Linked DNA regions of Homo sapiens: region 1 is reported to be linked to region 2. The links are microRNA targets in miRTarBase. Many come from high-throughput screens and were not tested one by one. Region 2 holds a microRNA gene; the other region holds the end of a gene's coding sequence.
Evidence for each region. The annotated mature microRNA hsa-miR-3190-5p reads UCUGGCCAGCUACGUCCCCA and lies in region 2 at 3,405-3,424, opposite strand. An mRNA with a match to its seed (bases 2 to 7 or 8) in the 3' UTR can be bound and repressed. Matches are read on the target gene's strand: a 7mer-m8 pairs with bases 2 to 8, a 7mer-A1 pairs with bases 2 to 7 and ends in A, and an 8mer does both.

Region 1: the mRNA of CNKSR3 is a reported target of hsa-miR-3190-5p. Seed matches in the 3' UTR shown: 8mer at 1,282-1,289, 7mer-m8 at 2,698-2,704 and 7mer-m8 at 4,122-4,128.

What each region holds. Positions count from the first base shown.
Region 1 is chr6:154,402,343-154,407,342 of GRCh38, reverse strand. It overlaps CNKSR3 (CNKSR family member 3), which reads left to right. Exons shown (of 13, transcript NM_173515.4): 13 at 691-5,000. The coding sequence ends at 989. Among named protein-coding and RNA genes, the nearest start is that of IPCEF1, 48 kb to the right of the region's middle.
Region 2 is chr19:47,225,379-47,230,378 of GRCh38, reverse strand. MIR3190 (microRNA 3190) reads right to left here and starts at 3,437; the gene lies at 3,358-3,437. It overlaps BBC3 (BCL2 binding component 3), which reads left to right. Exons shown (of 4, transcript NM_014417.5): 2 at 1,933-2,221; 3 at 3,625-3,815. The coding sequence starts at 1,948. MIR3191 (microRNA 3191) reads left to right here and starts at 3,360; the gene lies at 3,360-3,435. RefSeq lists silencers at 1-22, 1,883-2,322, 3,543-3,842, 4,212-4,378, 3,873-4,432 and enhancers at 2,355-3,297, 4,506-5,000.

The sequences.
Region 1 (5,000 bases), not on the chromosome of region 2:
TGCTGGCAGTTAGGGCAGGATCACTCTTTTCCTTGTTCGGGAATGTTCCTGAATGCCCAGCTTGAATGCCCTGCATTAAACAATGCATAAACAGTTCTGTTCAGCCATCGCGGGGACACTACACTCTATGGTCCCCACCCACTAAAGGAGACCCGTGTGCTACCTCTCAGGCGCTAAAGCAGCCTAAAGTATGAGGGACCCTTCCCATTTCTGCTTCCAGAGCACCCATTGGTGGGCCCAGCCACAGGTGGGACCTTGTGGCCAATCCAGGGAGGAGAGCAGTAAAGGTATGGTGCCCACATTCAGGGTGGTGGCAGAAGTCTGGGCAGGCCGAGGGCCCTCCAAAGAGCACTGTGTAGGGGATTGTGATTTTTTTTTTTTTTTCCTGGAGGGGACAGAGTCTCGCTCTGTCAACAGCCTGGAGTGCAGTGGCGCGATCTTGGCTCACTGCAACCTCCGCCTCTCGGGTTCAAACGTTTCTCTGAGTAGCTGGGACTACAGGCGCCCGCCACCACGCCAGCTAATTTTTGTATTTTCAGTAGAGACGGGGTTTCACCATGTTGGCCAGGATGGTCTAGATCTCTTGACCTCGTGATCCACCCACCTCGACCTCCCAAAGTGCGGAGATTACAGGTGTGAGCCACCACGCCCGGCTGGGATTGTGACTTAATGGACTTTGTCTGGAAACAGGGGAGGATGCCCTTTGCCGGTATTTCAGTAACGAGCGGATTCCTCCGATCATTGAAGAGAGCTCCTCTCCCCCATACCGGTTCTCCAGACCCACGACCGAGCGGCATCTGGTCCGGGGTGCGGACTACATCCGAGGAAGCAGGTGCTACATCAACTCAGATCTCCACAGCAGCGCCACGATTCCATTCCAGGAGGAAGGGACCAAAAAGAAATCTGGCTCCTCAGCTACGAAGTCCTCGTCCACAGAACCGTCCCTCCTGGTCAGCTGGTTTACGCGCCTCAAACTGTTGACTCACTGAGAGGGACCCTGCTCAGGCCACCTGCCTGGCTCCTGCCCCAAGTGCCTTGCTTTTACAGTGGACAGCCTCTTCTCGTTTCAGCCTCAGTATTATGTAGGGACCTTATGCAATTTCTTTTTCTTTTGAAAAGTTATCTACTGCCCTTCTTGGAAGTTTGCAGGATTGGATGGGAACAAATTCAGAGGATCTTAGGTGCTGGCTTGTGGAGACAAAAGGAGGGAAATGGGTAGAGCCTGTTTGTCTTGCTTCCCCAGAGATAGAATGTGAAGACACGCGCTAGAAATCGCAGTCCTGGCCAGAGACGTTATGGTCATTGTGAGGGACTGGTGGCATTGTTCCTTTTTGAGGGGCTGGGGGGACTCAAATTGGTGGCTGTTTTCACACAGATGTGTTGGTTTGTGGTCCAACTTCTTTATCTGAAAAAGCCAGTGAGAAAACATTTTTGATTTGATTTTTCTAAACTATCTACCATATTTTAAGTGTAGCAGCTTTGACTTTGCAATAACGTGGCAAGTATCTGATTTCTCCTTTGAGGCAGAGGTTTAAGTGTAGGCCTGTTACACTTGTTTGATACCTTTTTCATGACAGTCTCAGTATAGATCAGTTGGTACAGAAATACATGAACACATTTTGATAGGGCTTATTTCACACAAAGAAGTTTATGGTTATTTGTGTGGGGTGGTGTTGTTATATATTATTGTCTTTAAGGGAAAAGAAGCTATAAGATTCGCTGACAGCCAAAGTATCATTTAGAAAAGTGAAGCAACAAGATTTAGGTTGATGAAAGATACATGAGTTTGCATTTTGACCTGTTCAGTGTCTGTCTTCCAGCACGGTGTGTACACTTCTTCAAAATTGTACACAGTTTGCTAATTAGAAATATCTTGGAAAGCCTCATGGTCACTAATTTTCAACTAGCATCAGGTATTTTGAAAACGTGTGTCTGGATATTAACTCTTGTTTAAACTGAATGTATGATATTTTGTTAGAATGGAAAAGTACTATCTTGTTAATTTAAGTATTTTAAATATAGTTGTATATTTTTCTTACTCTTAGTCACCTGTAATTGAAATATTTCTGTTTTGCGTCATACACGAAGCTAGTGAAAAAGAAAGTGCAAGGCATTTTCAGATGAGCAAGTGACTATCGTGGCTGTTGCCAGCAGGGCAGTATTGTTAAAAAAAATCAAAATAAACCCTCCCAAGCATTTTGGGATTTTATGGATTAGAAATGGAAGAACAGGAGAAGCATATGCAAAGTGAAATTGCACGAGGGGAATTTTCTGAGGTATCTTCCTAGGCAGAGCCGAAATCTCCTACTCCAAAATGCCCTTTCTCATACCACCGGAATTGTTGAGTTTGCTGAACTGCCTGGAATTCAGCCCATGAAAATCACTGGAGTTAGGAAACATCTTCCCTTTAAAATGCTTCTGGTGTGGTTAAAGGAACTAGCAACCACTCATGTATAATTACTGTGACTGAATTCAGTCAGGCTGGTTTTTTTTGTTTGTTTGTTTGTTTTTGAGATGGAGTCTCAATCTGTCACCCAGGCTGGAGTGCAGTGGCGCAATCTCAGCTCACTGCAACCTCCACCTTCCAGGTTCAAGCGATTCTCCTGCCTCAGCCTCCCATGTAGCTGGGATTATAGGTGCCCGCCACCATGCCTGGCTAATTTTTGTATTTTTAGTGGAGACGGGGTTTCACTACGTTGGCCAGGCTGGTCTCAAACTCCCAACCTCAACTGATCTGCCGGCCTCAGCCTCCCAAAGTGCTGGGATTACAGGCATGAGCCACCACACCCGGCTCAGTCTGGCTGTTTTCTTCTCTACCTCTAAGACAACTGCCATGAAGATCTGGTATTTCGGCCTGGCGCAGTGGCTCATGCCTGTAATTCCAGAACTTTGGGGGGCCAAGGTGGGTGGATTACCTGGGGTCAGGAGTTCAAGACCAGCCTGGCCAACATGGTGAAACCCTGTCTCTACTAAAAATCAGCTTCGCATGGTGGTGGGCACCTGTAGTCCCAGCTACTCGGGAGGCTGAGGCAGGAGAATCACTTGAACCCTGGAGGCGGAGGTTGTAGTGAGCCAAGATCAGGCCACTGCACTCCAGCCTGGGTGACAGAAGGAGACTCTGTCTCAAAAAAAAAACAAAAAGAAAAAGATCTGGTATTTCATGGAGACATGGAGACCCAAGGGTGTTTGGCAGATGGAGAGAAGAGGCTTGCAGTGTGTGACCACAGGGTGTTCAACACACTAGGAGGGTGGGGTGTGGGCTGGGGAGGTCTCGTGTAGGGCACTGGTGATGAGGAGGGAGCTGTGTACGAGGGGCGAGCCAGCCCTGCCTGTTTTACTCTTGTCTTGAGCTGGCTTTATGCCCAGGAAGTGGGTGGCAACATCTCCTCTTACTCCCCAGATTGTGGGGAGAACTCTAAGAGCTGTAGTTCCACTGGATGATGAGTTAAATCACTCTGGAGGCCTTAGCTGGCTGGTGAGCTCTTTTTCTGTGGGGAAAATGCCACTTGTGAATTGAACAGCCATCCTTTAAGTGAATATTCGGCAGTCAGTCTTCATTATAGGCAGTGGCCAACCAGATTGGTGCTTTTCAGCCTTTGTTCCCTGGAGTCCCAGGACCCGCGAGAGAAGTTCCTGGCTCCTCTACTTGCAGTCACCCTCCACAGCTTCATCTTTCTTTTTATTTGAGGTTTTCTCCTGAATTGTGTTTGAAAAATATATTGCTGCTAAAAAAAAAAAACCTTTGTAAACCTCTACTATGGACATACATAAATAATAGTTTAATATGGATTTCTTAGAAATTAATGGAAACTGCTTGCCTCAGTAGTAATCCAGGTTTAATTGTGGACGTGTGTTCACATATGAAGTTGCTTGATGATGCTTTTTGACAGGATTCTTTATTTTTATTTCTTTAAAAAAAATTTTTTTTTTTTTCTGAGACAGATTCTCACTCTGTCACCCAGGCTAGAGTGCAGTGGTACAATCTCAACTCACTGCAGCCTCTGCCTCCCAGGTTCAGGCAATTCTCCTGCCTCAGCCTCCCAAGTAGCTGGGATTACAGGTGCCCGCCACCACACCTGGCTAATTTTTGTATTTTTAGTAGAGATGGAGTTTCACCATGTTGGCCAGGCTGATCTTGAACTCCTTGACAGGATACTTTACAAGAGTGATTGTTAAAACTCTCCCAGACACAACTCAACACCTACCCCTATTATAATATTTTATAGCATCACTTTTCAATCTTCAAATGAAAATCATGGATGATGAAGCTTACCTTCACTCATAAAAACATCACTCCATTTACTATTCTGAAATGAAACTAGCAGGTAATATAACTAGCCTCTAAAACATACCCATCAGTGACGTTCTAACTGAAACAGATAAGATATTTTATAATGAAATAATTATTTTCATATGTACATATTCTAGCATGGTTATATTACAAGATGTAATTAAACTACTAAGCAGGGCACATACTTTGTATGTGTGTGTATAAATATAAATATGTGAAAAATCACCATGAATGTGGTAGTTACCAATTCAGACCTGCTGCATTGGCAGTTCAATACCAGGAAAGGGGTCGATGTCAGCAGTATGATTTTCTAAAATGTGGCCAATTCTTTAGATAAAGTTCTAGGCATACCTAGTCTGTAATGGCTTCACTCATATAGTGCTTGCTGTGTGCCTGGCATTGTTCTAATACCTTTCTAATAAATCTATGAGGTGAGTACTGCTGTTAGTCCCGTTTTGCATATGAGGGAGTTACCCAGGTTATGTGCTAGTCATCCTGGTTATGTGCTAATAATGGCAGAGCTGGGATTAAAATGAAAGCAGCCTGGCTCTGGCTTTCTTGCTCATAATCACTCAGTATATAGGCTTCCTTCCATTTATAGAATTCTCTCATTGCATTCTTGAAAAATCCAAAGCATATTAAAACTGGGCTGAAAATTCTGTGTGTTTATATATAAAATGAAATGAGATCATAGATTTGTTATTGTAAA
Region 2 (5,000 bases):
CTGGGACCGCCGTGGGAGCGCGCGTGTGCGGGGTTGTGGATCTGCAGGTGTCTCGCCTGGGTGTGTGCGCGTGTCTGGCTCCGAGTTTGTGCTGGGTTCTGCAGGGAGTGGTGGTGTCGATCCAGAGGAATGTTGGGGTTTCTGACCCGTCGGGGTGTCTGCGTGAGTCCCCGCGCCTGTTTGTGTGGGGTTCTGTCTGTGGGTGCCCTGCTTGTGGGGTGGGTGGACCTGCGTGTGTTGTCGGTGAGAGTTGTCTGTGTGTGCTGTTCCGGGATGATACTGGGGGTCTGTGGTGCCTGCGTGTGCTGGGGTGTGGAGGTTGTAGTGTGTGTGTGTTGCTGGAGTGAGCTGTTTGTGTGTTTATGTGTGTGTCTTGCCCGAGCGTGCGATATGTGTGCTTGTGTCTTGCCTGTGTGTTTCTGTCTTGGCTGAGGCCGTCTCTGTATCTCCGGGGCATGTGTCTTTTGCCCAGCGTTTGTGATGCTGCGCCTGCTAAATGCAAATGTCTGTTTTCTGTCCAGGTGTCTGTGTGAGTTGTCAGGTGTGAGTGTGTGTGTGTATGTATGTGTGTGGTGGGGGGTTGTTTCAGTCTGGGTTTGGCTTGTGTGTCTGGCATCAGCGTCTGGGATTTGAGGACCCAGGATCTGTGGGGTCTATGCAGTGTAGACGGTGGGTGTTGCTGGCAGCCTCTGGATGGGGTTGTGTCTGAGCCTGTGTGTGTGTGTGTGTGTTGGGTCTGAGGGGCTTGTCACTGTGATCGGCTGGCTCATGTGTGTCATGTGGGCTGCGTGTGTGTAGTGTTTATGTCAGTCACGTGAGACCAGTGTTTTCTGTGGGTGCGCTAGGTGTGTGTGCTGCTGGGCTGTGTGGGATTAGAGTTAGCTGTAGGGTGTGTGTGTGTGTGTGTTGCTGACAGTTGGTGATGATGTTTGAGGGTTGCGTGAGGAGGGTGGGTTGGTGTCTGGTGGTGTGTTGAGGTCTGATGGCATGTGTCTGTGTGTGCCTGATCTACGTGTGTCCTGAGAGTTGGTGACATGTGGGTGTGTTTTGGGGGTGTTGATGTATGTGTGTCCGTGGGTGTCTGTTTTGTGTTGATATGTGAGTCCAGAGGTGTGCAGGTCTTATCTCTGGAGTGAGTGTGTGTGTGTGGAGAGGGGCATGTTTGGGAACTGAGGCAGTGCCTAGCTTGTGTGTGTGTGTTTGTGTTTGCAAAGGCTGCATTGTGTTTGCATGTGCCCCTGGGCATATCAACAGTGGGTCAGTGTGTGAGACTTTGACAGTTTGGATGTGTGGGGATGGATTGTGCCAGCCAGTGTGCGCAGTATGTAGAGTGCTTGTGATGGTCTGTCTGGATGCTCCTGCTTTGGTCGGGGGTGTGTGTGTATTGTGTGTACTGAGTAGTGATGTCCGAGACTGGGGCCATCTCAGTGTTTGTGTGCAAGTGGGAGGTGGGGTGGGCGGTCAGGCTGGCCAGTCCCGTGTGAGTCCTTGTGTGTGTGCTGTGGGGGCCTCGCTGTGCCTCACTGCCCTCCCTGTGTGCCCGTCGCTGTGTTGGGAAAGTTGTCCCCACCAGCCCATGCTGTGAGTCCCAAGTGGAGTGAGTTTGTGTTGTGGGACTGTCACAGCCCTCATACACACACCTGCTAGACCCCTCCATCCGTCCTGTGTGAGCCCTGTCCTTGCTGTGAGAGCCGTCCTGTGCCCCCTGTCCCTCCTGTGTGCCCATCACCGTATGCACGGGAGGCTCTCCAGGCCAGCCAGGACCCGGTGGTGTCATCCCCCGGCTGGGCGTGTCTCTGTGGGGCCGTCACCCCCTCCGCATGCACACACACCTCCACTCTTCTCCATCTGGGTCCTAACCCCGGGTAGGCTGGAGGTACAGTGGGCCCTGGTACTTCCCTGCTGACCTGCTCCTCCTCCCGTGTCCCGCAGGCCCCAGGGAGCGCCATGGCCCGCGCACGCCAGGAGGGCAGCTCCCCGGAGCCCGTAGAGGGCCTGGCCCGCGACGGCCCGCGCCCCTTCCCGCTCGGCCGCCTGGTGCCCTCGGCAGTGTCCTGCGGCCTCTGCGAGCCCGGCCTGGCTGCCGCCCCCGCCGCCCCCACCCTGCTGCCCGCTGCCTACCTCTGCGCCCCCACCGCCCCACCCGCCGTCACCGCCGCCCTGGGGGGTTCCCGCTGGCCTGGGGGTCCCCGCAGCCGGCCCCGAGGCCCGCGCCCGGACGGTGAGTGCCCGCCCCGCCCCCGGGGTGATAGGAGCCGGGAAGAGAGAGGGCTGGAGACTCGGAGGAACTGGAGAAGTGGGAGAGGACGGGGGGAGGTGGCGGGCCCAGCCGGGCCACTGGGAGGGTGTGGCCAATGTGGTCTTTGTGTTGCAAGAAGCAGGAAGACGGAGGCTGGGGGTGGAGGGGGAGGTCAAGTGGGAAGTCCCTCCTGGAATCTGACTGCAGTCCCCGAATTGCAGCCCACTGTCTCTTCCGGGCCTGGGGCAACAGCTGCATCCCAGCTCCCCTCCCCCAGTCTGGGTCCTCTAGACCCCCTGGAGGATTCCTGTTGCAGGGAGAGTGGGCCGAGCGGGAGGACTGTCAACTCTGGCCTCTGGGGAGGGGTCGAGAGGCCTTTTGCTTTTATTTGCATCTCTTTGGCCAGGGGCTGTCCTCAGCAGTCCCGGCGGAGGAAGGAGAGGGGGAGGGGCCATTGTGTTGGGAAGTCCCCTCGGGGAGGTGGGGGAGTCTTGGGGAGGGAAGGGTTAAAGGTCCCCTGCCTGATGGGCTGTTAACCCTGTGGTGCCCGTGGAGCCCCATCCCTGCCGGCAGGCGCTCTAGGGAAAGTGTGTCCTGGTTTCCCATCCCCCATCTTGTCCCGGCAGCCCAAGGGGAGCGAGGAAAGAGAAAACTTCCCTAACTCAGTTCCTGGAAGCCCTGGAAGGGGACACCGATTTCAAGGCCAAGGTCACAGATGTGGAAACTGAGGCCCTGGCTGTAGGCCTTAGGGAACCCTCAGGCCAGGACCTGGTGGGACGGGAGGGCAGGAGCCTCCTAGGGCGCTCAGAAGTGGGGGGGGGGGGGGGGCAGGAAGGCATCTCCCGCGTCCCAGCCCCCCAGGCCCGCGCTCTGAAGCTGCCACAGTCTCTGGCCTTCTGGTCTCTAGGCCTCTGCCACATCCGGAGGTGTGGCTTCCCTGTGGTTGGACACGAGAGGGCAGGAGACCTGAGGCTTGTGATCTGGGTGGGGTCAGTCACTGTATCCCTGTGTGACCTTGGGATACTCCCTAAGGGCGGGCCTCAGTTTCCCTGCCTGTCACATGGAAAAGGCAAAATGTGGCCCCTTTGGAAAATAGAGGTCGTTAAGCCTGACCACCCCCGGGGTCACCTCTCTGGCCGTCTACCTTCCACACTGACAAGGGCCGTGGGGACGTAGCTGGCCAGACAGGTGACCCCAGAGCGGCGTCCCCAGGTACTTCTTGCTTTCTGGTGCCTGTGGAGGAGAAGCTGAGAAATTGACTCACTAGCGATGGGATCACTAGAAATGAGGCGGGGAGCAGTGGCTGGGAAAGAGGGGAGCAGGCCGAGACACCTCGAGGCCTGGAGGGGTGGTGGGTGCTGACCGCGCCCCTCTGCCTCTCCAAGGTCCTCAGCCCTCGCTCTCGCTGGCGGAGCAGCACCTGGAGTCGCCCGTGCCCAGCGCCCCGGGGGCTCTGGCGGGCGGTCCCACCCAGGCGGCCCCGGGAGTCCGCGGGGAGGAGGAACAGTGGGCCCGGGAGATCGGGGCCCAGCTGCGGCGGATGGCGGACGACCTCAACGCACAGTACGAGCGGCGGGTGAGTGCTGGGGGTGGGGTAGACGGCAGGTGGGACTTCCGCCGGAGGAGGGGGCGGCAGGCGGCCCCCGCCAGATGTGCGGCAGCTGCTGCCCTGCGCGGCTGGGTCGCTCCGCGGACAGGCAGGTGGGGGGTAAGTGGGTGGGGGGGAATCGCGCGCCCGCAGAGCCGCCCAAGGACTCCGCGCCGCGGCTGGCATAGCCGGAGCCCGAGCCAGGGCCAGGGCCAGGGCCAGGGACTAGGCCGCCGAGGAGTGGAGCTGCGCGCCCGTGGCCCGCGGCCGCGGGGACTGAGGGCGGCGCTGGGCGGCGCGGCTCATATATCCCGGGCTATTTATAGCCGGTGAGTCAGCAGCCGCGCCGCGCCCGCCCCCTGCCGTCCCTCTCGCGCGGCCCGCAGCGCCACACAGTTTCCCGGGCGCCGGGGCGGGCCGGGGACCGCAGGGGTGGGCTCGCAGCCCCGCCCCGCGGGAGGCCCCGCCCCCCAGCCCCTGGCACGGCCTCGATTTTTTAAAACAAATATTCGAAGCCCACAGCAGAGAATGGGAAATCACAAACATCATGCGCCCACCAGGCAGCTCTGTTCAGTTTGAACATTACACCCGCATTGCTTGCTTATTAAGAAACCAAACAAAACCGCAGAAACGCATGTGGTGAAGCTCCTTACTCTCCCCATCCCTTCCCCCTCCTTGCATCCAAAGGAAATCTCTCGAGTTGGCCTCTCTCAACCCCTGCAGGTGTTGCTTTTACTCCGTATTTACCAGGCCAGAACCAGGGCTTAGAATCATGGAGCATTCTTAGCTTAGCGTATATGACATAGTTTTTGTTTCTCCCCAGAATTCCTTTTTCCCTCAATATTAGGCTTCAGATTCACCATATGGGCAAAAGAGCTTCCATTCATCTATGTTCAGCCAGGCACGGTGGCTCACTCCTGTAATCCCAGCACTTTGGGAGGCGGAGATAGAAGGACGCTTGAGCCCAGGAGTTCCAGACCAGCCTGGGCCACATAATGAGATCCCCGTTGCTACAAAAAATACAAAAATTAGCCGGGTGTGGTGGCGCGGGCCTGTAGTCTCAGCTACTTGGGAGGCTGAGGTGAAAGGGTCCCTTGAGCCAAGGAAGTCGAGGCTGCACTGAGCCATGAAGGGTCACTGAACTCCAGCCTGGGGGACAGAGCAAGACCATCT